Regions from separate parts of the Homo sapiens genome. Here region 2 is linked to region 1. Evidence: fine-mapped expression QTL. A gene starts in region 1. The other region holds a variant in brackets. All regions are shown on one strand. Distances are between the middles of the regions.

The links. PIP is the estimated chance that this variant, and not a neighbour inherited with it, causes the effect.
Region 2: its variant is the best candidate, but not a certain one, in a credible set for the expression of ATP8B4 in whole blood (INTERVAL, PIP 0.75).

The regions. Positions count from the first base shown.
Region 1 is chr15:50,117,565-50,120,379 of GRCh38, forward strand. ATP8B4 (ATPase phospholipid transporting 8B4 (putative)) reads right to left here and starts at 1,669. Exons shown (of 28, transcript NM_024837.4): 1 at 1,559-1,669.
Region 2 is chr15:49,887,646-49,890,460 of GRCh38, forward strand. All of the region lies in intron 23 of ATP8B4 (ATPase phospholipid transporting 8B4 (putative)), which reads right to left. Among named protein-coding and RNA genes, the nearest start is that of ATP8B4, 230 kb to the right of the region's middle. The variant A/T (reference allele first, on the strand shown) is at 1,467.

The sequences.
Region 1 (2,815 bases):
CACAATATAGGTTAAAATAAATCACTCTGTGGTTTCTCAAAAAAAGTGAAAACAGATCCACCATATGATCCAGCAATCCCACTTCTGGGAATACATCCAAAAGAAAGGAAATAAGTACCTTGAAGAGATATCTGTACTCCCCTGTTTATTGCAGCACTATTCACAATAGCCAAGATATGGAAGCAATAATATTTCTTCTTGAGGAATAAAATTTTTAAATGTGGTATTTATATACAATGGAATATTATTCAGCCATGAAAAAGAATAAAACTCTATCATTTGCAGCAACATGGATGGAACTGGAGGATATTATGTTAAGCAAAATAAGCCAGGCACAGAAAGACAAATATCACATATCCTCTGTCATATGTGGGAGCTAAAAAAGTTGATCTCATGAAGGTAGAGAGGGAGAATGGTGGTTACCAGAGGTTAGGAAGGGGAAGAGGAAGAAGGGGGTGAAGGTAGGCTGGTTAATGGGTACAAACATACAGTCAGATAGAAGGAACAGGTTCTAGTATTTGATAACACGGTAGTATGACAATAGATAATGATAATTTATTTTTTATTTATAATAAACGATATAGATATAAACGATAAAATAAACGATATAGATAATGATAATTTATTGTATCTCAAAATAGCTAGCAGATTTGGAATGTTCCCAACACAAAGAAATGGTAAATGTTTGAGGTGATATATATGCTAATTACACATCGTATGCATATACCAAAATATCACATGTACCCCATAAATATGTGCAGTTATTACATATCACATAAAAAATAAAAAATACATTTAAAAAAATCAAAACTGAAATCACTCTGAGTTTACATTTTGTAGTAAAGGCCAGCATGGAGCAACAGCTGAGTAAAAGGGGATACTTCATGGGCACAGGTGTTGGTAATCCCACAAGAAAACCTGTGTTTCCTCATTTACTTTCTAACAAGACTTCAGCTTCCAATTAATGTTTTTCACCAGTTTTCTTTTCTTCAAAACAGCTAATTGTTAACCAGGGACCTGAGACACTCTCTTGCCTATAAACAAAACAACTAGAAGGATACCTTTTTCTGTTCAGACAAATTTTAGCACTAAAAACATAACCCTCAAACCTCAGAGGGATAGCTCAGTGCAAACTGTTCATGTCTAAAGCATAAATTGACCATAAACAATATATTGAATAGGTGCACTGTATACAAACCCCGTGAAAAAAATAAAACCAACTACTACCAAAGGAAGTGACAAAGACCTACAAACCAAGAAGAAATGTACCTTTATGCTACTATCATTGGTCATTTAATAGGCATGCTAACAGAGTAAAAAATAGACATTTCAAACAACAAAAAAGAAAATGTCACATCTCCCATTTCCAACTAACTCCCCCAAATTTATTTTTTAGCAAAAGGGGAATAATAAAGAATATTTGTGAAACCTTAGTCACCAAGATGAAAACAGCAAAACAAAATAGGGATCTGGAGAAAAGAAACAGATCGTTCCAACCAGCCCACAGCTAAATTTCCACTTCATCTCACTAACCATTGAATGCTACCCATCTACTCACCTCAACCCAGACTTAATCCTCTCCCCCAAAAGGAAGATTTCTCAGCAGTGCAGGAAGATCAAACAGGTATCCATTCCGTGACCATGCCAAGGAGAAAAGCAAGGCTACTCTGAAAGCTTGAGGGATGATACAGAAAACAAACTGGGTCTCTAGGGGGCATTCTCAAAAACCTGAGATCAACTCCTGGAAAAACACTCTTGACCACTTACCACCACCGGAAGCTGCTAGATGGCAATCAGAATCAGCATCTCATCAGAAGAAGAGGAAGACCTTACAAGAAAGCAGCTTCACTGTCAGTGAGGAATTGAGGGAGAAAAGCACTCCTTGGAAAAATGCTGAAAGCCCTGAAGAGCCTCTCCTCCCCTAGTTGCCTGCTCCTGCTGACAGGACAGAACTGGTTAATCTTGGGGAAACAAAAGGAAACTCCCAAGAGGCTGGCTTCTGAGGATGGCTTCCTCTGTGGGAATCAAGAATTCAGGAGGATGAAAATGAACAATGGAAGGGGACACCGGCTACCAGGCCTACTTACCAAACTTTTACCAGCCCTTGACTGAGGAAGATAAGCAAATCTGTTTGCAGTTCCCACCTGCTTTTGCAGAGATGAAAGAATCAGCAGTGGGTTTTTGTCACTTTTTTTTTTTTTTTTTTTTTTTTTTTACAGGGGAAGTTCAGCTCTCTTATGGATGAAAGCTAAGCATACTCAAGTGACATTTAGTAGGCAAAGCAATGACACTTCTTTCCCAACATCCTTAATTTCAGCACAGAGGATGCAAACATTAACCCTGATGGTACCAAAGAACAAATGCACATAGGAAATGGATTTACATCTTTTAGTTTGGAATTGCTTTTAAGGGGATTCTGGTTGTTAAAGCGGGATTAGATGAAAATAAAATATTTTGGTGCATATCTATTTTTAAAAGGAAAAATATGGCTTCTTTTAAATATGCCTAAAGCCATCTAGGAATTTTCCAGAAGTTGCATCAGATTTGCCAGTTAAGTACTGAAATCAAATAGATTTTAATCATGTCTCTATAACCAGAGCAAGCTAATCCCCTGCGCACCATCAACTCCACTCTCCTGGAACATCCTCACGCTGGGCCCTCAGGTTTTCACAGAAACAAGGGCCTTTTCCTACCAAGGTTCCACAGTAACAAGAAACTACAGATTTCTGGAAATAAGAGAGATGGCTTTCTTTCTTACATGATAAAAGAGGACCAAGAACAGCTTAGAGCAGGAAGCAATCATCTCTTTAAAATA
Region 2 (2,815 bases), 230 kb before region 1:
TGTCTCTTCACAGATCAGAAAAAAAAAAAACAGGGAGGAGAGTTCATTTTTCCAACTTCACTGTTTTTTCTATTTAAGGAAAGCTCCTCGCTCCCTTCTTTATGGGAGCAATTTATCAGCCTTATCAACCATTTTACATAGAGTTAAAAATACTCCAGCTACAAATTACAATCTAAAAACAGCTTGGAGAACACAAAACCTATGATTTATAGAATGACACATTTAAATAAACCTTAATAAAGTTCTTAAACAGCTGCAAAGGGCTTTCTCTGCTCTTTCTGCTCGACCACTGGCTGAGCTCCTTGTTCAAATAACAGGATGAACTTACTACCTCTTTGGAGATGTGTATCCCCCTTTTCCTATGTGTTGCAGAGGAAACCTATCTAATGACCTTTTGGGGGCCTTAAAAAACATTTGTCATTTAAAGAAAACACATTGTGGAATAAATATGAGGTGCTCAGCCTCAGCACATCTGTTATTGATTTGTGTAATTAGTAAAAACCCGCTCGCAGCATCCAGGAGGAGTGACCCAGGCCTGAGCACTCGTCCAGTCCTGGACTTTCCCCAGAGCACATCTGGAAGGTGAGGGGGAGCAGAGCTACCATGCCAGGTGGAGACGGGCTCACAGGTAACCAAATCCATGAAGTCATCAAAGCCTTAAGATTAGTCGCAGTCTTTCACGTCACTTTCCAAACTTTTTGTTGCTTTATTATACTGTTTGACAGAACTAAAGTTTTTCCAGCCTTGACAAGATAATTGCTTCCATATCACAGTAGAATTGAAGAAAAAAAAAATACACAGCCCTGTATCTCACTGACAATGATAAATTGTCATCAGATAATATCATCTCACAAGTACACAGTACCAGTAGTTGCATAATTTTAAGCATGAATTTTCTAAATAGGACTTCAACCAATTTTTTTTATTTGGCTGTATCCTTGGTAGGGGACAGTTCCTCTTTACGAAAAGTCCTGAAGGCATAGGGTGCTTTTAAAATAAGTTACAGGTATAAATTGTGAATCCAAACCCACAGTGGATGCCACAAAACTCATGTGGGTTTCAATAATAGATTGGGATAAGGCATGTCCTTAAAAAGAATCCATGATTCAGTTTAGAGACCTAGTCTCCTTTATCCAAACCTCTCTGTTCCAGAAATCTGGCTGGAAATCTCATTAGAACAAATTATATTTAATTTGTTTCTCAGTGGCAGTTGAGTTGGAGCGTTTGCCAGCAGAAGGTGTCCTCAAGCTTCCAGATGATTCTACAAACAGTTCGCCTAGGGACAGGCCTGTCCCTCCCACAGCTCTAAGCTATGACACACCCCGCAAGTCATGAGGTCTCTTTCAATAGAGAGCTCATTTCCTCCACATAGTCATATTGAACTGAGTGTTTCTGGATATTTCTCCTTTAGATTCCAAATAAAGCAAACATTTTCTGATTAGGGGTTGAGGGAAGACAGTATTTTT[A/T]AAAAAAAAAAGGATATGGCCATTAGCTTTTCCAAATTTATGACAACCCAAGAGGTCACTTATCATCAGGTAGAGTAGGCAGAGCGCTGAAGTGGGAGCCAGGAGACTTGGTTCCGGTCCTAGCCTTGCCTACCGCTGATCCTCAGCTCCTGCAGGATCAGGATCCTCCTCTGTAAAACGAGGGACTGGACTCAATGTCCCTGAAATTCTCTGCCAGAGTAAAGATTCTAGGTTCAACAAGATACATACTTTTTGTTCTTTGTTCCCGCTGCTTCTCCCAGGAAATTCCACCCAACATAGGAAACAAAAGGGAGTCTGGTCCGCGGGTTCTTTTCACTGTACATCTCAAGCCAATCACAACATAAGCAACGTACTGAAGTTAACCAGAGGAAAGTCCATAAACCAACGACAACCCAGACTACATCACATCACCATCCATCACAGATGTCCTAAGTGCCACCATCCCACAGGCAGTAATGCTTCCACCCATTGGCCTTCTTGAAGCCTTGCACACCACAGCTGGATTTGCCTACACATGTGCCCCAGCCCACCTACCAGGATGGGGCATTGGCTGGAATCTGCTGGAGCTCTCATCAGATAATAATTGCCTGGATAAAATCCACCAGGCCCCAAAGGCAGACTGATGTAGTAAAGAAACAGCACATGTCACTTCATTAAATAATTAAGCTGGTGTTTTAGAAAGTCAACATTGTGTCTTAAAAAACACAATCTGTTTACATTTGGTCAGATGTTTTCAGCTGAAGAAAGGATTACTTCCAAACAATCTGTTGAGAGGTACACGGAAGAATATTTAGGCGCTTATGAATCATGCTGTGATTTGACAGGGTTGGCCCCAAGACATGGCTTATCCATAGTAAATTTATTCCAAAAGAAATTTTTGGTAGAGAAATAAAAGAAAGGAGATTATGGGATTTTTCAACATTTGTTATGCATTTATGAAAATAAAATCTTTCCCAGACTGTAGGTTCCTTGAGGGTAGGAACAGCATCCCTTTGATTCACTCTGTTGTTCCTGGGGGGCCATCAGAGCACCTGGCCCTAAATTGGCACCCAGTTTATTGTTGGTAAATGAGCAAGCATTCAGACCACAGGTTCTGCATTGGACAATATGTGTGAGAGTCTCACTGCTGTCAGGACTGGACAGAGAAAGTGATGGAAGATTAGGCCTACCCAGGAATGGCCTCTAAAGAGATGCTGGCTATTACCAAATCTGCCAGGCCTTGGAGTTATTACTACTGGCTCCATTTCACTATGGAGCTTTCAATCCTGTTAAAGCAGTTTAGGAGAGGGGTGGCAGGGAGTGGGAAGACCTCAGACAGCTGACTTTCT